2 separate regions of the Homo sapiens genome follow, and region 1 is linked to region 2. Evidence: fine-mapped QTL for protein levels in blood plasma. Region 2 holds a variant in brackets. A gene starts in the other region. All regions are shown on their reverse strands. Region 1 holds the start of CXCL6 (C-X-C motif chemokine ligand 6). Region 2 has its middle 10 kb from the start of CXCR1.

Evidence for each region. A credible set is the group of variants that fine-mapping cannot tell apart. PIP is the posterior inclusion probability: the model's chance that the variant is causal. Protein levels are from antibody-based Olink assays in UK Biobank. Linkage for the fine-mapping came from a reference panel and not from the study's own genotypes, which makes the PIPs less certain.
Region 1: it holds the start of CXCL6, and the variant in region 2 is the best candidate, but not a certain one, in a credible set for the plasma level of the CXCL6 protein (UK Biobank, PIP 0.83).

The regions. Positions count from the first base shown.
Region 1 is chr4:73,825,656-73,837,499 of GRCh38, reverse strand. It overlaps CXCL6 (C-X-C motif chemokine ligand 6), which reads right to left and starts at 822. Exons shown (of 4, transcript NM_002993.4): 1 at 641-822; 2 at 404-536; 3 at 214-297. The coding sequence starts at 749. RefSeq lists silencers at 554-848, 4,454-4,748.
Region 2 is chr2:218,150,542-218,162,787 of GRCh38, reverse strand. No RefSeq gene overlaps it. Among named protein-coding and RNA genes, the nearest start is that of CXCR1, 10 kb to the left of the region's middle. The variant T/G (reference allele first, on the strand shown) is at 813.

The DNA of each region.
Region 1 (11,844 bases), not on the chromosome of region 2:
TGTCAGTAATGAGCTCTGTGTAATTGTTCAGGCATGTAAGATTGGTGATAAAGGTTTACCCAGAACATTCCAGAAAAAAAGTTTCCTTATTCTTCTTAACAACCTTATAATTCTAAGCATAGTCTAAATCCTACAGAGAGAATAAGGACATTGTGAAGTATATGCTTTCCATAGAAGATATTAAAACACCACAAAGATCAAAGGGACAAATACCTGTCCAAAATTTTCTGGATGACTTTCTTTAGAAAAGGGGCTTCCGGGTCCAGACAAACTTGCTTCCCGTTCTTCAGGGAGGCTCTGAAGTAAAGAAAAAGAGGATGCACCCATGAGCCACAAAGGTTGACGACCCAGGCTGGAGGACTTGCCTAAGTCACAGTGGACACAGCAACACAGGAGAACTTACACCACTTCCACCTTGGAGCACTGCGGGCCTGCGGGGAACACCTGCAGTTTACCAATCGTTTTGGGGTTTACTCTCAGCGTAACGCGTAAACAAGTGCAACGCAGCTCTGTCAGCACAGCAGAGACAGGACCAGCTGGGGAAGAAAGACATTTTTATAGGGCAGGTTGCTGGGAGAGTTCCCTGGAACGCAGCGGCCCCGCAGAGGCTGGGATGCACCCCAGTGCCAGGAGCTCTCACCGCTGGCGAGGGGCCCCGGCGGCGTCAGCAGGAGCAGCAGCGCGAGCAGCGCGCACAAGGAGCCCGAAGGACCCGGGACACGGGCCGCGCGGCTGGACGGGAGGCTCATAGTGGTCAAGAGAGGGTTCGCGGGTTCCTGAGCTGGGTGGAGGCGCGGAGACTGGAGGATACAGAGCACTTTGGTTTCCTCGTGCCTTCTGCACTCCCTTTATCTGCATTCATCCCTCCCGACTGGCAGGAAACTCAAGCTTTGGGATGCTGGGGAAATTCCCTGAACTCAGGGGGCAGTGTGGAAAGAAGGGGTTGGTGGAGGGGGGCGGGAGGATGGGAATTGGTGGGGTGGGTGGCTGGGAGGAGCTGCCTGCTCCCTTAAGGGGGAGGACATTTTAGCCCCGCCCCGCGGTGGAGGGAGCTGTGGCTCCAGCCAAAATAGAGCAGCGATTCAGCAGGGTCTCATCCCCTGGGCTTGAGGGGTTAGCGAGGCTGGCTTCTCTGAGGCACGCAGCTGTCTGGGAGATGCTCCTCCTCTCCAATGGCCAGGACAATTAGGCAGGAGAAGGAAATAAAGGGTATTCAATTAGGAAAAGAGGAAGTCAAATTGTCCCTATTTGCAAATTACATAATTGTATATCTAGAAAACCCCATGGTCTCAGCCCAAAATCTCCTTAAGCTGATAAGCAACTTCAGCAAAGTCTCAGGATACAAAATCAATGCACAAAAATCACAAGCATTCTTATACACCAATAACAAACAAACAGAGACATGGTCTCAGCCCAAAATCTCCTTAAGCTGATAAGCAACTTCAGCAAAGTCTCAGGATACAAAATCAATGCACAAAAATCACAAGCATTCTTATACACCAATAACAAACAAACAGAGAGCCAAATCATGAGTGAACTCCCATTCACAATTGCTTCAAAGAGAATAAAATACCTAGGAATCCAACTTACAAGGGACATGAAGGACCTCTTCAAGGAGAACTACAAACCACTGCTCAATGAAATAAAAGAGGATACAAACAAATGGAAGAATATTCCATGCTCATGGGTAGGAAAAATCAATATCGTGAATATGGCCATACTGCCCAAGGTAACTTATAGATTCAATACCATCCCCATCAAGCTACCAATGACTTTCTTCACAGAATTGGAAAAAACTACTTGAAAGTTCATATGGAACCAAAAAAGAGCCCGCATGGCCAAGTCAATCCTAAGCCAAAAGAACCAAGCTGGAGGCATCACGCTACCTGACTTCAAACTATACTACAAGGCTACAGTAACCAAAACAGCATGGTACTGGTACCAAAACAGAGATATAGATCAATGGAACAGAACAGAGCCCTCAGAAATAATGCCGCATATCTACAACTATCTGATCTTTGACAAACCTGAGAAAAACAAGCAATAGGGAAAGGATTCCCTATTTAATAAATGGTGCTGGGAAAACTGGCTAGCCATATGTAGAAAGCTGAAACTGGATCCCTTCCTTACACCTTATACAAAAATTAATTCAAGATGGATTAAAGACTTAAACGTTAGACCTGAAACCATAAAAACCCTAGAAGAAAACCTAGGCATTACCCATTCAGGACATAGGCATGGGCAAGGTCTTCATGTATAAAACACCAAAAGCAATGGCAACAAAAGCCAAAATTGACAAATGGGATCTAATTAAACTCAAGAGCTTCTGCACAGCAAAAGAAACTACCATCAGAGTGAACAGGCAACCTACAAAATGGGAGAAAATTTTCGCGACCTACTCATCTGACAAAGGGCTAATATCCAGAACCTACAATGAACTCAAACAAATTTACAACAAAAAAACAAACAACCCCATCAAAAAGTGGATGAAGGACATGAACAGACACTTCTCAAGACATTTATGCAGCCAAAAAACACATGAAACAATGCTCACCATCACTGGCCATCAGAGAAATGCAAATCAAAACCACAATGAGATACCATCTCACACCAGTTAGAATGGCAATCATTAAAAAGTCAGGAAACAACAGGTGCTGGAGAGGATGTGGAGAAATGGGAACACTTTTACACTGTTGGTGGGACTGTAAACTAGTTCAACCAGTGTGGAAGTCAGTGTGGCGATTCCTCAGGGATCTAGAACTACAAATACCATTTGACCCAGCCGTCCCATTACTGGGTATATACCCAAAGGACTATAAATCATGCTGCTATAAAGACACATGCACACGAATGTTTATTGCAGCACTATTCACAATAGCAAAGACTTGGAACCAACCCAAATGTCCAACAATGATAGACTGGATTAAGAAAATGTGGCACATATACACCATGGAATACTATGCAGCCATAAAAAAGGATGAGTTCATGTCCTTTGTAGGGACGTGGATGAAATTGGAAATCATCATTCTCAGTAAACTATCGCAAGGACAAAAAACCAAACACCGCATGTTCTCACTCATAGGTGGGAATTGAACAAGGAGAACACATGGACACAGGAAGGGGAACATCACACTCTGGGGACTGTTGTGGGCTGGGGGGAGGGGGGAGGGATAGCATTAGGAGATGTACCTAATGCTAAATGACGAGTTAATGGGTGCAGCACACCAGCATGGCACATGTATAGATATGTAACTAACCTGCACATTGTGCACATGTACCCTAAAACTTAAAGTATAATAATAATAAAATTAAAAAAAAGAGAGAAAAGTTGGAACCATAGTAGTGGAAGCTTTGACTTGAGAAAAATTTCTGAAAGTCAATCCTTTCTAATTATTATTACTATTATTCAGGAAATGTTATTCATGATTATTGCCCTAAACTGAGAGTCCTTCCTCTTCTTGCAGGCAGGTCATTCTAGGTTTCTTGAATGACTTTTTGATTATCTGGATTTCAAACAGCTTTAGAAGCCAAGATAACGTGATGAAAGAGGCTCTATCCCCACCTGAAGTCAACAAGTTGCCTGAATTGGCCCCAAAGTGAAATCTGTTTATTAGAAATTGTATACTTGTAGTTTAGCAAGCATATGTGTGTTGAGGCAGTTTAATAAACAAAAATATCTTCAAACAAAAATCACCCAGCAAATTGCCATGGAAGATAAAATGTACTTTTGGCGGTTGCTATGCTATTGAATTGGAAGAGGTTTTGGTCTTATTGGGAGTGAAGTGTAGTATGGTGAGCATAGACTGAAGTTTGCCAGGGAGCCCGGGCCTGCCCCAGCTCTGGTCCCACCCCCAGGTGTGTTTTTGACACCATTTGGAGATGCTGTAGGAGGTTGATGAATTTGAGGGGCTCATGTGAAAGCTTCTTCTAGAGATTTGCATCAATTGGGCAGCATAATAGCACCCAGTCTGTTTTCCCCCAAACAACCTCATGGGGGGAGGAATTCTCCCCATAGGCTTCTGGAACCATCTAATTTCATGATTACTGGTGACCAAGGCTGTTTCTGCAGACCTGTTCTAGTCCCCAGTGAGCCCTGCACTGCCTCCTGAAATTGAAGGGTGAAGTAGCTTCCAGCTTCTCCCTCTCTCCTTCTTTGTTATCCGTGGAGGAGTTAAAGCACTGAAGGTTTAAGTGTCTTCCACCGTCTTGCTCCATGGCAGGCATGAGTACGGCACTGGAATGGCACATAGACTTTCTTTCACAGAAGTCTAACTAGATCCTCTTCTGGCTGGTTCTGAAGAACTTTGTCCTCAGTGCAGGCCAGCAAAGGTCATCAGTAAACATGACGGCATTGAGAAGCCAGTTATGGAACACAACTCTTTTCCTTGTCCCTTGTGACACTGGGGAATTTTATTAACTTCCTCTCCTGTCACCTCCATTGGTGAGCAAGAAAGAGGTGTCACAGACCTTTACAATTTTGATTCTGGAAGGAAACAAGAAATTCATTGGCTGAGGAAGGCTGGGTGGTTTGGCCTTCAGTTTGTGGGAAGCTAAATGAGAAGTTCTCACAGCTTCCTGACACCATCAACATCATACCTGACTCAGCAAATGGAATCCTTCATCTTTTTGGGGAGTGGTAATCTGTAGAAAACAGCCTGCAGATTTAGCATATTGACATTTTAAAGATTAGAATGTGTCTAAAGACAAAAGATAAGCCTTGCTGAAATGGCTAAGACAAAACTTCAAAAATGTGACTCAGCTCCTAGGCAATTAATTCAACTTAACCACAGGGAATAAACCACAGTATAAGGCTTTGTTTAAAAAAAAGTTTAGAGATGACATAGGTTATTGACTTTTAAACTCTCTCTCCCTGTCTGTATGTGGGTTAGTTCTGAATAAGCCATTTTAAACATAAATGAACATATGAATTTGTTTTTGGCACCAAATGGTAAAATCAGAGAGGAATCATGAGACAAGATTGCCAGTTCCTCCTGATGGTCTTATAAGTACACATGTCTTACCTGCTTTGCACTCTGAATCAATTCACAAAGGATTATTTATAGAATGTAAGAAGAAAAAATATTTCTGCAGTTGATAAGCAAGTAATAGAAAGTCCCCAATAAAAGTGAGTTGTTGGGTTACCCAACCTAATCAGGAAGCAATGTGTCGCTTTTCCTGGCTTCCCATGAAAATCAGCCTGGGTCATTGTCCATGTCTGGCTTCTATCTAGGCATTCTCTGATGTTGGCCTTGTAAAAATACAGGAGGGAACATGAATGATGCAAAGATCCCCTGAGGTTAAGATGGAAAGCATGAAGAACTACGACAGACATAGGACTTTAAAAGTCATTGCTCCCTTTTCACTAGTTTAAAGGAAAACCATTTGTGTTACCTGCACTGTGTCCAGCTGGTAGAGAAAAGCTCTGTGTTATTTTTGTTCCCAACAATAAGGGAAAAATTCTTCCAATGCCATTTGCATCCTGATGGCCTGAAAAGTTTACTCCCTGTCAAAATCAATCCTATTTTAGTCATTGTACCACAGATTAATATAATATGAATGAAAACATTCCAAAGAGTTTGTGGCGTTCAAAACACTTTTATGCTCATTATTTCTTGAGCTTCACATTTATTCTTTGAGGCTGATTAAAAAAAAAAAAATCTCTCTCCCAGAGAATGAGTTAAGTAATAGAAAATCCAGAATTGGCAGTTAAACACCAGAGAACGTGCCCCAGTAATTTTTAATAGTTTCCAGATTACAAACCACTTTCTTCACAGTTGCTGGCAAACACCCCACAGTGGCTTTCCACAATCTGGGTAACCACTTTATTATATTTCCCAGAAACCACATTTTAAGTTATTGAGAACCTCAATCCATTCACTCCTATCTTTGGGACCACAGTAATATCAAGGGTAAAAGAGACTTCCAACATATTCAACTTGAAACCACTTTCTATATCCCTCACTTTCTTCAAGGCAAATTCAAAGTCCTGTCTTTGAAAAAGCTTATTCTGACAAAGCCAGAATAGAGTATTCCTTCCACCTTTGCTCTTCGAACATCTAGTGTACTTACAATAACCACTGCATGAGGCAGAGTTTAATTACTCCTTAATTTTACTTTTATCTCCCTCAAGTCAACTACGAACTCCTTAAAATCAGTGACGATATCTTACATTTCTCACACAACCTCACATAATTTCTTAGTTCAACAGCGAACAGTCTATGAGCACTTGGTGATGGATAATGATAACAACTTTTTAATTTTACGGTGTTCTTTACCTTACAAGTAGATCTTAAAGAGAAAAGAATGGGGCTGTTTATTGTCATTAACTCCTGTATTTTTTTAAACTTTACAATTTTGAATTGGCTGCCTCCTATGTGGGAAATTATTTCTGGGTTATTCTTAGGGAAAGTTAGAATGATATCAACGATATTTTCTGTCTTTGAATTCAAACTGTTCAAAAGAATGTTCAGAATCCGGCAAGGCACTTGATATTAAAAGAAAAAATACATATAACTAATGTATTAACCAAATTACATAGTTTTTGTGACATAGAGATTGTTGGAGATAAATGACAATGGAAAAATCTGATTACATTACACTGCGTTGAATGTTAACAGTGTGTGTATGTCATTCTAAATTGATTTTTTCTAACTAGAGAAGCCTTTAATTATATGATTTAGTATTTGGCTTAGGTTAGGCCTTTTCAAATGTTTTTTCCAAGATTTTATTTTTTATATTCACCATTCTTTGTATTACCTTTAAGAAATGCTATATAATTGCAATAATTATTATCAGGTTAAGCATATCAAGTGTTTCAGTATAAGGAAGGCAATAAGAGTTTAAGTGGAGGATAGAGTAACTTGCATGTATGCAAAGAAAAAGGAAAAAACACCAGCAACTGCTGAGTTTACTTTGCAATGTGAATGCAGTCTGTCTCCTAAATTGAGCTGGTAGTCCAATGAAGAAGTACTATCATCCAGGGAATGACTTTGCTCCAGGGTTGCTTCACCTTTGCTTTGAAATGCCAGGAATATTTTTCTTCCTTTTGCCAATTATCTAATTTTCCTTGCTGCTCATTTCAGATTATATCTGTTTGAGGACTAAATCAATGAACCTTGACTTAGTCTGTACTGAGCTAGATTTCAAATAATCATAGCTGGGCTTCTCTTCCCCACCTCTTGTGTGGATGGGGCAGCTAGTTATCTGTTGTCCAACTGTGCAAACGTTAGAAAAGTTTTTGTTGACAACAAGAGTTGCTACATAGGATAAAAAAAGATAAGAATTAAAGTTTTAAATGTTTCTAAAAGCCTTAAGTTTTTCAGAAACAGGAAGTCTTCATTGCTTTCTTCAAAAATTTCTTCTGGGCTAAGGAAAGATATATATATATATATATATATATATGTATGTATATTTTAATGTTAGATATTTTAAATAACTTTGAGAAGGCATTTCTATACTACAAAAGTCTTTTATGTAAGTTAGATTTCTAATACTGTGCTAAATAATGCTTGTTTGATATATAATTTCTGATCAACATTACCTTCATAACTTGTATTTTTCAGCAGATACTGTCTTCTGTATTACTTCATAATATATTTAATTCTCATTTAATATATAGTAGAACCTCAGGATTGCCGTTTTAATAGGAATAATTGTAATATATTTGTATATGTGTGATTTTTGTATTTCCTAGACATTCAAAACCGTCTTTTTCCTTCCTTGTCACTGCTTGAAAAAATAGGGAAGACCTAACATTTGACAAGTATCCCAGGCAATGTTCATGAACTTAAAAGACAAACACACAAGTACACCACCACTACCACCAGTGCCCTCACCACATCGACAAAACAAAGATCAAAAGAAAAAAATAAGAAAAAAATATGTCTTAGAGTTGATTTTTTGCCACTAATTCATTAAATCTCATTATGAATTTCCAGTGAATAACTATTTTCATGCATATTTTAAATGTTATTTTTTAGTATAAGAATTGGGAATTAGGAAATTGCTCACACTGACATAAAAGGTGTTGCAATGCCAAGCCAAAAGTCACAAAATCCTAGAAATTCTGGCTAATGTTGGACTATAAGTTTCTTACTAGCATTTTGGGATTTTAAAGCGTGACTTCCTCTGAAGAGTAAATTGACCAAATTGCTTTAACAAAATATTTTACTTTGAATCATTTTGATTTCCAAAAATTGCAGTATTAGTAAATCAGACAGGAAGTTATTTTCTTTGGAACACAATATATTTCTGACGTTAGAAACAGTTTTGACTTTTTTTCCCTAACTTGAATTTGAGACCAGACTGATGAATGCTATGACCGGGAGGGATTATGTCATAGAACAGGAAAACATGTGGTGGCTCATGTATTAGAAATAGACCACAATGTTGCTGTGCACAAGACCGTTCTTTGTAGTAAATGGAAGTTGTGAAAGTTTTGTATTGAACTATATCCAGCCAGCTTTCTGTGATGGTTTGAAAAAAAATTGCTTAAATTCAGGCATATACAGATTGAAAATCAAAGAATGGAAAGAAAAACACCATGCAACCAGTACCATATGAAGTCTAGAGTGGCCTTATAAATATTCAGCAAAACAGACTGCAAGAAAACAAGTATTATCAGAGATACATAAGCACATTTCATAATGATAAATGGTCAATAAATAAAAAAAATTATAAATTTATACATGCTTACTAAATAAGCTTCAAATTACATGAAACAAAACTACCAATTAGAACTTACAACAGGTATTATCTTCAATCACAGTTAGAAATTTTAATACCGTTAAGTAACTAATAGAAGTAGACAAAAATATTAATTAATGTACAAATGATTTGAATAACACTTGATCTACTTCAAAAAGAGCAAGACAATTATTTCTAGTCTCAGTATTTCAACTCTATTTTATGCTAATGGTTATAGGCAGTGAAGTAAGTTTTAAAAAAGAAATAAAGACATAAAAATGAAAAAGGAAGAAATAAAACTGTCCTTATTTGCAGATAAAATTGTCATTAATACAGAAAACTAAAAATAAATTATAAAATATACTGAACCAATAAGTGAATTTAATAAAATTTGAAGATAAAAAGACAATATGTAAAAGTCTACTTTATTTCTGTGTTATACCAGCAAAATATTTGAAAATAGAATTTTTAAAATACCATTTACCATAGCATCAGAATTATAAAACACTTAAGAATAAATTGAACAAAAGATGAACAAGAATTCTATGCTGTATATCACAAGGCTGCAAAAAAAAAAGATAAAAAGACTGAAGCAAATAACAAAGTGTCAATATCATGTTTATAAATTAGAAAACTCAAAATTGCTAAGCTGATAATTCTCCCCAAGTCAGTGTGCACATTCAATGCAACGTTAAATAAAAATCACATTAAGCTGTTTTTGAGAAATTGATACATCACTTATACCATTTATATGAATAAGCAAAGACTTATAACAGCTCAATTTTGAAAAAGAAGAACAAAGAGAAACCACACTATCTGATTTCAAGGCACAATATAAAACACATTAACAAGGACAGTTGGAGTAAGGAGAGACAGAGAGACCCATGAAACCAATTAAAGTACAGGAACAGATACAGATATGCCATCTGTTGAATTTTCATAATGGTTCCTAGGAAATTCAATGAACAGTAATATTTTGAAAGAAAATTATTTTTTTCCCGAGCAGTAGGTCTCAACAGTGGGCTCAAAATATTCAATAAGCCATGCTGTAAACTGTTGTCAAAAGAGTTTTACCATTTCATACTCCCACCCACAAAGGAAGTGTGCCCTGACTACTCCATATCATCATCATCATTCTTTTTAAAATTGTAGCTACTGGTAGGCATTTAGTAGTATCCCATTAAGCTTTTAATTATTATTTCATGATTACTAATGATGTTGAACACCTTTAAGGATGCTTGCTTGCCATTTGTAAATCTCCCTTGTAAAGTGTATTTTCAATTCTTTTGCTCATTGAGAATGCACATAGTCATGTAAGAATTCTGATGGAGATGTACAAAGAAATTAATGTTGCCTTTATGCCTGTGAACACAAAATCTATTCTGCAGCCCATGGATCAAAAAGTAATTTTGACTTTCAAATAGTATTATTTAAGACATACGTTTTGTAAGGCTGTAGCTGCCAGAGATAGTGATTCTTTTGATGGATCTGGGAAAAATAAATTGAAAAATTTTGGGTAAGGATTCATCATTCTAAGTACTGTTAACATTTGTGATTCATAGAAGGAAGTCAAAATGTCAACATTAACAGGAGTTTGGAAGAAGTTGATTTCAACCTTCATGGATAGTTTTAAGAAGTTCAATACTTCAATGGAGGAAATAACTGCAGATGTGGTAGAAATAGTAAGACAATTAGAAGTGGAGCCCGAAGATGTGACTGAATGCTACAATGTCATCACAAAACTTGAATAAATGAAGAATTACTTCTTATGGATGAACAAAGAGTGGTTTCTTGAAATGGAATCTACTCCTGGTGAAAATGCTGTGATGATTGTTGAAATGATAACAAAGGATACGGAGTATTACATCATAAATTTTGTTGATAAAGCAACATCAGGAATTGAAAGGATTGACTCCAATTTTGGAAGAGGTTCTGCTGTGGATAAAATGCTGCCAAACAACATAATGTGCTATAGAGAAATCTTTTGTGAAAGGAAGAGTCAATCAATGCCACAAATCTCATTGCTGACTTCTTTTAAGAAATTGCCACAGCCACCTCAACCATCAGCAGCCAACTTCCTGATCAGTGAGCAGCCATCAACATTGAGGCAAGACTCTCCACCAGGAAAAGTATTATGACGTGGTGAAGGCTTAAACAATTGTTAGCAGTTTTTAGTAATAAAGTATTTTAAAGTTAAGGGATTCTTATTTTGTAGACACAATGCCATAGCACACTTAATAGACTACAGTATCATGTAAACACAACTTTTATATGCACAGGGAAACAAAAAAATTTTGCGACTCACTTTATTTTGATATTCATTTTCTTGCAGTGGTCTGGAACCAAACCCACAATATATCTGCAATGTTCCTGTAAATAAGTAGGGCCTCGAGAAAGGGATTGTCCATGTGTCATATTTTGGAAAAAAAGTTGAGCAAGATTTAAATAAATAGGTAGTTATGATTACTTCTTCATCCTCAATGAGTGACATGCTGAATGCTGCTAAGGGTAGATATTCAATGGTGGCAACAAGAAAGCATTATAATTTTAGTGCTCCTTTAAATGGAAGTGGATTATTTGCTAGTTTTAGGTTAGGTGCTATGTGGCACTGTGGGAGTAACAAGTTGATAGAATATGCTGACTCTGCTGCTGTGGGTACGCAGGAGGAAAACACATTAGTTAGTATTTCAAAATATGATCCTGTTCTGTAAGCCTGTCCCAAAATTACAATAACTGACTCCAATAATCCATCGACTTTGATTCCAGTATTGACAACGTGTTTCACAAAGTTTAATTAAATCATTTTTGTTTTATATTCAATTGGCAGTCTCACATTTGCATTTGATGTCTTCTTCCATTTTGGGCCAATCAATTAATCAATCAGTCAATCTAACCTGGACTCACATTAGTTTTCTGGGGCAAAATTAATTCTGGTTTATCTACAAAATTTTTTTTTTCTGGAATAACTCAGTTTTTACCCTTCTGAAGTGTTTTCTATTGTTCTCTCCTATCCTCTGTTATGGTTCAGATTCTTTCACTGTGAATTTCTGTAAGAACATTCTTTAATGAAAAAGTTCTGCATACTTTTTGCCATCATGTGATTTATAGTACACTATGAAGTTACCGTGAGTAGGACTGCCAACTCCCTGTTCCTCCAAC
Region 2 (12,246 bases):
TCTGTCCTCTCCGCTTTCAGCCTCCGTCTGTCCACTTATTAAGTTTGCCTTTGTGGTTTAGCTTCATTAGATGTTTATCTGTGTAAAAATGTCCCAAGTGAGGACTTAAGATGTCAGGGCTCTTCTGATGGCAAATGATAGAAAGAGAAGTCAAACTAGCTTAAGCAAAACTGAGAGTGTGGGTTTAGCCTGTGTGGGGAAGGATCAGGGAAGGCTTGAGGTTGGGAATAGGGTGAGGCTCAGAGACAGGACCTAGATCAAGCTTCAGATGGGGATCAGTGATTGATGTTGAAATCAAAGCTGGGATGGGGGCAGGGATGGGGTGGCAGCTTGGGATGAGGTCAGAGAAGGATGAATGCCAGGAATCGGTAGAGATCTACAAGGAGGGAGAGTGAGAGTCAGGGTCACAGTGAGGTGTTGGGAACAGGGAGATTCAACATGGAGCTGGGACCAGATATGGAGAGTGAGACTTTGGAATGGGATAAGTGTGGGGGAGTGGTGAGGCTCAGGGAGGGGGTGTCAGGCCTGGAATGAATATCAGGGAAGGCTTAGTAGCTATAAGGCTGGAGCAGAAGACGTGCCTGGTAGGGTCACCATCCTATCTGGAGCATCATCTAAGATCCTCTTCCGGGGCCAAAAGACAGAGGCTCCTCAGTCTGTCCTGCTTAAGACTCTCCAGGCAGGTGAGTGAGGAGGGAGTTAGGCACTCGAGCCCTAAGAGATAGACCTGATTCAGCAGAGAAGACAAGAAGGATGCAAAGGATGCACAGAGAATCTAGGGCAGAAGGCTGAGAACTGGGGCCTCCTTTTCC[T/G]CTCCTCCCTCCGCTGATCTCCCTCCACCTCTCCTACTGTTTCCTCAAAGTCCAACTTCCTCCTTCTTCACCTTATGCTCCTGCAAGGACAACTCCATCAGAGGCTTCAGTAAGTAAATAGGGATCCACACTGGGTCCAGGGGAAATGCAAATGACTCATAACCTCATGAAAAATGCTCAGTCTCACTAGGAACTAAATGAGGCTCAAACAGCAACAAAATAACTCAGAAGTGTTTTAAACAGGGGAGGGATATAGTGGACTCTTCAAACAAGTGCAACATTTTTCGATTGGATTTTTTTTTTTTTTTTAATGAGACAGGGTCTTGCTCTGTCACCCAGGCTGGAGTGCAGTGGTGCATACACAGCTCACTGCAGCCTCAACCTTCTGAGTTCAGGTGATCCTCCAACCTCAGTTTCCAGAGTAGCTGGGACCAGAGCTGTGCGCCATTATGCCCAGATAATTTTTAAAATTTTTTGTAGATATGGAGTCTTGCCACGTTGCCCAGGCTGGTCTTGGACCCCTGAGCTCAAGTGATCTGCCTGCTTCGGCCTCCTAAAGTGCTGGGATTACAGGTGTGAGCCACTGCACCCAGGCTGATTGGAAATTCTAATGCAGCCTGTAATTTTCTGGGTATAGCTCAAGACACAAATGATTTGGATTTCAGATTTTTAAAAAATGTCAGGATTTTGGTACTTAGTTAACAGCATATTGAAGTACCAAAAACTGATATTTCAATTACTAGATAGGGTGAGGATTAGATCCAGTCAGAGCCAGGGAGAGTGTTTGCCTTAAGGAGGGACTCCCTTGTCCAGGATGGGGCTGGCACTAGGGATGGGGTGAATCTTAGGACAGGAGTGGGGGTCAGAAATGGGAGGGGTCAGTGATGAGATTGGGATTACAGAGGGGATGTACATCAGGGTAAGGTGAGGGACGGGGATTAGGATGTAACGGCATGTTCTGCACAATGCTTCCTGATGTTAAAATCCTAAAGTTTGTTTTGTAGCCTTGGTGACAACGTTTGAGACTCTAAATCAAAATGTGAAAATCTACTGTTTTCCCCTAAACCAGTTCCACTTCTGACCAACCACAGCCTCTCACCACCCCTTGCCCTCCATCCCCTGGCCCATTCTTGTTAATTCCAGCAAAAATACTAATTGACAATCAACATTTTATGCCATAGAGGTAAAATTTGCCCCTTTCTCAGCAAAGTAGTATTTTAATAAGAGTCTTTCAGAGACTGAAAAATCTCATAGATGCAAATGAGTAACATGACAATCTCCTCTTTGGTCTAAGGATCGTCCCAAAGAGGTGCCTTCCTAGAGAAGACCACTCACCAAGAGACAGTGGTGGAGCCCTGTCTTTTGCCGTTTCCATGCAGAGGTCAGAGAGGCCACTCTAGGTTCCACCCAGAAAGCCACAAGGAGCTAACGGCGGAGCTCTCAGCACCAATGTTTTCTTGCAGCCTGGTATTCAGTTTTTAAATCCAAAGTCTTCCTTCCAACCTTCAGGGTAGAAATGAATCAAAGACATAATAAATAAAAAATAATCGAAATATGTTAACTCGACTTTTTAAGATTAAATTTTCTTTCTATTGTCTAAGTATTTTATACACATTGTTGAAAAAACGAAATGGCTTTATGAAGCTTATAACAAAAAACCAGCAGCCTTCCAGCTCCAATCCCTGCAGACAAGGGCAGCAGCTGTCAGCTCTCATAGCTGTTTCATCGGATAGTGATCTATATATTTCTAAATATCATACTTGTTCTGCTAGTTTTTTTCTTTTTTTTGGTCTCACTCAGTCTCCCAGGCTGGAGTGCAGTGGCATGATCTCAGCTCACTGCAACCTCCGCCTCCCTGGTTTAAGTCATTCTCCCACCTCAGCCTCCTGAGTAGCTGGGACTATAGGTGCCCGCCATTACGCCTGGCTAATTATTGCATTTTTTGGTAGAGACAGGGTTTCACCATGTTGGCCAGGCCAGTTCATCACTTGAACTCCTGACCTCAAGTGATCCCCCCACCTCAGCCTCCCAAAGTGCTGGGATTACAAGTGTGAGCCACTGTGACCAGCCCTCTGCTAGTTCTTGTTTTTCTCCCCCTCCAGGTTTAGCTATCATCACTGACTCTCTCTTTTGGCTTTGAGAATGTAATATTCTCCCAGTCCCTCTCCTGCTTTCACCCCAATCCAAGCAAACACAAATACTGCCTTCTCCATTCTCCAGAAACAGATGCCACATTTTTTGGTTAAGTCGACATTCAATTTTTTTGTTATTATGACTATGTAAAAAATTATTCACAGTAGGATCCAATTTTTTTTGTACAAGTTTTGTTTTCCCTGGAATTGATGAGAGGATGTTCCATGTACTTATCATGACATCAGTTCCAATGTCTCCCTCAATACATTCACACTCAGCGGATAATCTATTAATTTTTCTTTCTCAAAGACCTCTCTCCGGGAGTCCTTCATTGTCTTCTTCCAACCTGGACAGGTGACTCTTAGGAAAGGGGCCAGTTCCTCTTTACTAAATTGCTTTGACTATGTTTCCAGAGAAATTTTAGAATCTGCTTATCAATTTCTATATAATGTCCAGCTGGGATTTTGATTTGGATTATGTAGAATTCATAGATCAATTTAGAGAAAATTGACATTGTCATATTGAGTCTTCCAGTCCATGGGCACGATATCTTTCTCTATTTATGTCTTCTTTAATTTTTTTGCAAAGGATGTTTTATAGTTCTTGGTACACAAATCTTGTACATACTTTGCAAAATTTGTCCCTAAGTATTTTATGGGTTTTTTGGATGCGATTACAAATGATATCTTAAAAAGTTTTCATTTTCCAGTTCTTTTTTTGGTTACCATAGTATATAGAAATACAGTTGCAGTATGTATATTGACCTTGTAACTTGGGACCTAAGTAAATTCATTTATTGGTTCTAGTAGATTTTTTTAAAGATTGCTTTGGATTTTAACTGTATGCCATCATTTCAGAATTTAAATCTTCTTTTTAGTTTTAGAATGCATGATGTGTACCTTGGTGGTGTTTTTCTTCATTCATTGTGCTGGGCGCCTGGTAAATTTTCTTAATCTGGAAATTTAGGTTATGTAAATTTATCTGGTATTAGTTCTTTGACAGTGTTCCACCCTTCGTTTTCCTTATTCTTTAATTTTTTTAAAAGAATTATTCTATTTTATTTTATTTTTGAGACAGGATCTCACTGTATCACCTATGCTGGAATGCAGTGGCCCAATCTCAGCTCACTGCAGCCTTGACCTCCCAGGCTCAAGGAATCCTCCTACCTCAGCCTATTAAGTAGCTGGGACTACAGGTGTGTGCCACCATGCCTGCCTGGCTAGTTTTAAATTTTTAAATAGAGTCGGGGTCTCCCTATGTCACCCAGGCTGGTCTCCAACTCCTGGGCCCAAGTGATCCCCTCTCCTTGTCTTCCAAAGTGCTAGGATTACAGGTTGAGTCACTGCACCCTGCCTATTTAAAAAAAAAAAATTAAAAAATCCTCCTGCCTCAGCCTCCTGAGTAGCTGGGGCTACAGGCATGCAACACCACCTTTGGCTAATTAAAAAAAAATTTGTAGAGACAGAATCTTACTATGTTGCCCAGGCTCGTCTTGAACTCCTAGGCTCAAGCAGTCCTTCTTCCTTGGCCTCCCAAATTTCCGGAATTTCAGGCATGAGCCACCAAGCTTGACCTATTTAAAAAAAAAAATTTAGGGGCTGGGTGCGGTGGCTCACGCCTATAATTCCTGCCCTTTGGGAATCCAGGGCGGGAGGATCATTTGAGTCAAGGAGTTCAAGGCCAGCCCGGGCAACATGGTGAAACCCCATCTCCACAAAAAAATACACACATGCACAAAATTAGCTGGGCATGGTGGAATGCACCTACTCTGGGGGCTAAGGTGGGAGGATTGTTTGATCCTGGGAGGCAGAGGTTGCAGTGAGCCAAGATTGCACCACTGCCTTCCAGCCTGGGCAACAGAGTGAGACCTTGTCTCAAAAAAAAAATCCTCCTTCCTTAGCCCCCAGGTAGCTCGGACTACAGGCACGCAACACCATCTCTGGCTAATGTTTAAAATATTTTTTGGAGAGATGGAGTCTCACTATGTTTCCCAGGCTGGTCTTGATCCCCTGGCCTCAAGTGATTCTCCCACCTCTGCCTCTCGAAGTGTTGGGATTATAGGTGTGAGTCACTGTGCGTGGCAAAAAATATACTTATTTTAAAGTCAGATCCAAATTGCTTTATTATCTTTAGCTCCTCAGGTGTGAATTCTCCCATTTGCTGTTGACTGACTGTTGATTGTGATGATTGTCAGCTCTTTGTAACATTTTATTGTTAATTCATCTTTTGAAGGCATTTTTTTGTTTCATGGGAGTCTTGCATGTGCCCTGGATTATGAAGAAGTCTATTCAGGGGTGGCTTTATGGCTGTACCTGCTAGGGCCTTACTGGGTTACATAGCTCAGAGCATTTTTTGTTATTGATATTTCTTGGCCCTGAGTTTCCACACCATTGCAAATGACAGATTTGGGTCCTCATCACTTGATACTAGGGCTTGGGATTCTGGAATGTTCCTCAATTGGCCCCTTTTCTCTCATGACCTAGGAAGGCAGCTCACTTGGGGGTTGTGTCTCAGGCTGCAAAGTGCTTTTCTATCCCCATTCAAGGGCATGGCAGCTCTTTCTTGGTCCTGACAATTTTATAGGCAATCAAGTTGTAGTTTCTGCTATACATGGGGCCTTTAGGGTCACTGGTATTATCATTCCCATCCTTAAGGTACATGATCAATTCTAGTATCTTTCTGGGTTCCTCTGGCTTTAATCCTACTCCCTGATAAGTCCATACATTTTTAAGCTCCCTCTTCATTTCTGGCCCTTGGAGATTTTTTCTCTCTCTCTTGCCTGCTATTGACCTCAGATATTTATTTTTAAAAATTAATTAATTCATTCATTTATTTTTGAGACAGAGTCTCACTCTATTTCTCAGGCTGGAGTGCAGTGGCGTGATCTCAGCTTACTGCAACCTCTCCCTCCCGGGTTCAAGCAATTCTCCTGCCTCAGCCTCCTAAGTAGCTGGGATTACAGGCACCCACCACCATGCCAGCTAATTTTGGTATTTTTAGTAGAGACGGGGTTTTGTCATGTTGGCCAGGCTGGTCTCAAACTCCTGACCTCAGGTGATCCGCCCGCCTCGGCCTCCCAAAGTGTTGGGATTACAGGCATAAGCCACCACGCCCAGCCTTTTTAAAAATTAAAAAAAAAGTTATTTAGGATGCCTATGGAGGGCATGTTTGTGTTGCTGATTTGCTGCTATGCCTCTTCAGCCAGCCCATTATCATGACCAGAAATTCAGATAGCACATCAAACGAAAAACAAAGTTCCTTTTCTTGTTTTTTATTTCCCTTTCTTATGTTAAAACCTTCTTCCAGAAAATGTTATGTACCCCAGGAGGATACATTGACGGGATTTCTAGGTAACCCACAGTGTGTACGTGCATGTTGCTTATGCATGGGTGCATATGTATGTCTGTTTTGGGGATGAATGACCCAACGTTATTCCAGAACTATCACCCCCTTTTTTTTAGCCAGGCTTGCATCAGGGGGATGGAAGAAGTAAGATCTAGAAGGTAAATGGGGAGGGACCGCTGAAGAAATCTAGTCACTTCCGACATGGGAAGGAATTGTGTTGCCCAACTGAAACCTAAGAGGCCACATCCGTACCTCTCCCTTGGTTCCCATACTGTAAACAACATGGCTGTCTTCCTGAAAGAGGTGACTTTGCTCCAGCTTTAAAGGTATTGGGGGTGTGGGGAGACTAGGCAGGTACAGGTCTCAGGGCTGTGCAGTGCAGGGTTCCCCACTTGGCCAGCATACTTGAGCACTCCTCTGAGTGGGACCCTGGCAAGACTCAGCATGTACTGTCTTTGTGCACATTCCCACATGTTCCTAAGTGAGAATCCGCTAGTTGTCTGATTATGTAACAAATGCTTGTTTGCATCCAACTCCGTGCTAGGTCTTAAAACAAAGTAATGGGCCAGGCTCAGTGGCTCATGCCTGGAATCTCAGCACTTTGGGAGCTGAGGTGGGCGGATCATCTGAGATCAGGAGTTCGAGACCAGCCTGGCCAACATGGTGAAACCTGGTCTCTACTAAAAATACAAAAAAATTACCTGGGTGTGGCGGTGGGCACCTGTAATCCCAGCTACTTGGGAGGCTGAGACAGGAGAATTGCTTGAACCCAGGAGGCAGAGGTTGCAGTGAACCAAGATTGTGACACTGCACTTCAGCCTGGGTGACAGAGCAAGACTCTATTTCAAACAAACAAACAAACAAACAAACAAACAAACAAACAAAGTAATGTACTAAAGAAATAAAATCTAAGGGGACAAAGGAAATGTGTGAATGGAGGGTATGTGAGGAGTTTATGAAATTTCCTGTAGGGTCACTGGAACAAAGAGATCTATCTGGGGGTCCTAGTGTACCACAAGCTGAACCTGAAGATTTGGAAAAATGTTTCTAATTAAATAAAACAGAGCAAAAAGACAGACTTAGTTGCTGTGTTACTTGAATCTTCACTTAAATTTTCAGAACCTTGGTTTCCGCTCCCATAAAATGAAGTTTGAATAGGCAAGCTTCCTTCCAGTTCTAAGAATGGGAGATGCTCGAAATCTAAGAGTGTACTGCGATGGACAAACAGGACTATAGCTCTAGTGAACTTGACATGAAACATCCATCTTTGCCCAGATCGTGATTATCCACAATTAGGTGCCCTGTGAAGGCCAGTTCTTAGTATGTGTTTTCCAGGCAGCTGCTGACCAAGTCTGACCTGAGGAGTTCCTAGAAGGCCTCTCTCTGTCCCCTTCTCTTTCTCCTCTCTTCCACCTCCCCATCCAATATTTCCCTCCCTGGTCTGTCAGCCATTCTTTTATTTGGCCTAGGCAGGCCTCTTAGAAAAAGAGCAAATGCCCCTGGGTTGGGGGAATTCTTTCAGTCATTAAGCCAGGGATGAGAATGGAGTTTTGAAATTGTTCTCCAGCATAGGATCCTCTTTTCTAAGCCTTCAACTTCATGAGCAAATGGGCACACTCCAGTCCAACGTGTAAGCTCAGCCTCTCACTAACAGGTAGGTCTGTGCTCACTGGTAGGACCGCACTTTGGACTTAGATGCTAACATTAATCTGTTGGAAGATTTTGCAAGGAGACAGAGAGAGGAGCAATCTGGGATTCCTGAGGGCTTTGTTGCAAGGGAAGAGCAACGAGTTGTTGAAAGGCACCCAGGCCGGGTGCAGTGGCTTACACCTGTAATCCCAGCACTTTGGGAGGCTGAGGCGGGTGGATCACTTGAGGTCAGGAGTTTGAGACCAGCCTGGCCAACATGGCAAAACCCTTTCTCTACTAAAAATACAAAAATTAGCCAGGCATGGTGGCGCACACCTGTAGTATTCCCAGCTACTGGGGAGGCTGAGGCAGGAGAATCGCTTTGAGCCCAAGAGGTGGTGGTTGCAGTGAGCTGAGATCGCACCACTGCACTCCAGCCTGGGTGACAGAGTGAGACTCTGTCCCCCCCCCCCCAAAAAAAAAAGACCCAAAGATCAGCTGCTTCCGCCCTATTTCCATGAAATTGTCACTTTGATCCCTGAATTCTATTTTAGATTCTACAACACAAGGAGAACCCTTATCTAAATCCTTATATGTATAGTGTGTTTCCCGTGATATCATAATTGAAGACTTACTCTGTGCCAGGCACTGAAAAAAACACTTTTTACATAAATTATTTTATTTAATGGTCATCAAGACCTGATGGTAGGAATTATTATTATCCTTATTTTACAGAAGAGGAAAATAAGGGCCAAAGAGATTAAGTCCCTCACTCAAGATAACAGCAGCGGGTAAGTGGCAAAACTGGAGTTTAAGTCAAGGACCAGCTGCCTTCGGAGTCTGAGCTCTCAACTGCTGTGTGACACACAGAGAGGTGCTGTGGTGGAGAGAGAGCCACAGGGTGAATTTGCGGTAGCCTAGGGCTTAGTCTATCCCGACTTGTGTGATCGTGAGCAAGTAATTTAACTTCTCTGGACCCCTCCCTCCTTGAAGGGATGGCAGCATTGGAAGCTTGTTGTCAAGGTTCAGGGTAATGTATGCCAGGCTTTCAGGGTAGACTAAGGTCTCCATAAATGGCAAACATTATTTATCACAGCAGAGAAGTCTTGGAAAGGCAAGTCCACTGGGAAATCGGGATGTAACTCCAAATCCTCTAACTGTGATGGCAGTGTTTCCTACATGATGTCATAGCTCCAGGGAGTTGGGAGGAGAGTTGAGATATACCTCTTTCCAAGAGATGTTTTGAGATGAAAAGATAAAGCTTGGAAAGTGATCAAGGTATATCCTTGTTCCTGTGACATCCATTTTTTTCTCTTCTGGATTGCCCATCAGCTCACAAGCCTGTTGTAGGAGTTCCCATCTTATAACAACCCTCCCTTGATCCCACATCTCATCAGCTACGGTCCTATTTTTCTGCTCCACTTTGCAGCTAAGGTCTGAGGCCCACTGCTCAAAGGGTGCTTCAAGTCTGTGAGGGGAGATTAGCAACATTGAGCAGAGTCTCAGTTTGAACCTAAACTGGGCTCACTCTGGAATTCACGTAAGTCAGTGCAAGCAATGTCCCTGAAAGAAATGAAGGGTTGAGAGCTCTTAGGGAGGAGCTCATTTCTGGGGGTCAGGAGGAAAGCACACAGGCCTGCTAAAGGCAATGCCTCAGGGTTGGGGCTTAGGGAGACCTTGAGGGCTACAGGAGTTGAGTGCTGAGGCCAAGACCAACCCAGGTCCAGGGCTTCTCACCTAAGTAGTAGGGAGATGGGGCTGGGAGTGAAAGTGAAAAAAACTGGGGAGATTTTGGCAGTGCCAGCAACACACTCAGGGAAACCTGGCCCTGTTCCCCTGCAGGTGGCCGGGTTGGAACTGGTAGAGGGTGGAGGCAAACTTGGCAAATGGGTACAGGCAGCCTCAGGGATGCATGTGGGAGGAGGGACCTTGGAAGGCTACCTGAGGTGCTGAGTCACAGGCTGACTCATGGGGTACACAGGTACAGAGTGTGAACACAGAAAGAGCCAAAAAAAGGGTAAAAAAAGAAAAAAAGCACTCATATTTCCACCACTCAAAGTCAACCCAGTGCACATTTTGGTTTATTGCCTTCTAGCATTAAAAAACAATAAAGAGTTGATTTTTCAGAGTGGTTTTAGGTTCACAGCAAAATTGAACAGAAAACCTTCTAGTAATTTTTCTTTACTTTACTTTTTTTTTTCTTTTGAGTTAGAATTTTGCTCTTCTCGCCCAGGCTGGAGTGCAATGGTGTGATCTCGGCACACTGCAACCTCTGCCTCCTGGGTTCAAGCGATTCTCCTGCCTCAGCCTCCCGAGTAGCTGGGATTTCAGGCACCTGCCATCATGCCCGGCTAATTTTTGCATTTTTAGTAGCGATGGGATTTCACCATGTTGGCCAGGATAGTCTTGAACTCCTGACCTCAGGTGATACACCCGCCTCGGCTTCCCAAAGTACTGAGATTAAAGGTGTGAGCCACTGCGCCCAGCCACATTTTTTCATTGCGGTATTTCTTCTTGAATGTTTCAATGTCATGTGTCATAGCATCACAATGTCTTGTCAGTACAGCTTAGGTTCATACTATTTTCGTTGAATAATTTAATGCAGTTTTCATGTTATTATGTTTCAATCTTTTTTCATTTTTAAAAATCAGCCTACATCATGCTTTGATTTCATGTTATTATCATATTTAACATTTCCTTGCCTGTTATATTCCTCCCACTTAGTGATTTTCTCCGGCTTTCTCCTGGCCTCTTGTTATTTTGGTCACTTTCCTCTCTAGCTTGCCATCCCAAGGTTGTGCATGGTCTTGCTTTCTCTCTCAGCTAGTTGCCTCCCATTGACCTAAGAAACTAAGGCTGCTGGGCCGGAGGCTCCTCAGCAATTTGACGCCTCACCAGCATCCACACTTACTCTCCTCTCCTCCCTGTCTCTCATCTGATGTCCAGGGAGGAGGTGGCCTCTGCTCCTTCTATTTGGTTGAATCCCCCTGCAGTGCCTGATCCACCCACCTCCTCAGCAATGTTGAACCTGCTCTGGCTTCCTGCCCCCTCTTACCCCACTGTTGTGTCAACCTCTCCCAGTCTTCAGCTCCTTCCCTAGGTCTCTGCATATGGGATTTCCGGACAACACTTCCTCTCTGTAGCATTTGACCCTATTTGTATCCTTTCTTCATTTATGAAAAAAAAATGGAGCAATGTCTGTGTGTCAGGCCTCCCGCAGTACCTGAGGAACAGCAGGAGCAAAGTGTTCACAAATCCCTGCCCTACAAAAGCCTAAATCCACACCTCTTGCCTGATTTTTTTTTTTTTTTGAGATGGAGTCTCGCTCTGTCTTCCAGGCTGGAGTGCAGTGGCGTGATCTCGGCTTACTGCAAGCTCTGCCTCCCGGGTTCACGCCATTCTCCTGCCTCAGCCTCCTGAGTAGCTGGGACTACAGGCGCCTACCACCACGCCCAGCTAATTTTTTGTATTTTTAGTAGAGACGGGGTTTCACCGTGTTTGCCAGGATGGTCTCGATCTTCTGACCTTGTGATCCACCCGCCTCTGCCTCCCAAAGTGCTGGGATTACAGGTGTGAGCCACCATGCCCGGCCTCCTCTTGCCTGATTTTTTAAAAAACCACAAATCCCCAGATTCATAGTATGAAAAGGAGAAAATTTTATAAATTTATAAAAAATTTATAAAAGATTATCTTGGGGGTTAGGGGTTGTGGCTCACACTTATAATCCCAGTGTTTTGAGATGCCAAAGAGGGAGGATCATTTATAGCCAGGAGTTTGAGACCAGCCTGGGCAACATAGTGAGACCCCTGTCTCTATAAAAAATTAACACAATTAAAAAACATTAAAAAATGAGAAGATTCAGAAAAACTAAAGAAGACCATAATAGTCTATTTCCCCACTTATAGATAACCACTGTCTACTCGTGGTATATCCTGCCGTACCTTGGTCTATGCATGTAACACTTTAAAAAACAAAATAAAAATGTGGTATTTTGTAGCCTTATTTGTTTTTCTCTCAGTAGTCTGTTTTGCCAAAACACCATATAGTATTCCTAAGAAATTTCGTTATACCAAAAGTATCTTAAAGGGGAGAAGAAGGGTTGCAATCCAGAGAGCTCAAATTCACAATAACAGTTATTGCTGTTTAGGAACGTACATAATGATAATTTTTGAAGATAATTAAGTCTATGACTATAAGCCCTAAATATCACCAAGCAAATTCAGAGTTGATGAAGTCTACCTTTACTCAAAAGACGAGTTTTGTCTTATTATCCCTGATGTGTAGAGGCTCCTGTTATTTTACAAACTCCTGTCACCTTCAAGTTCTC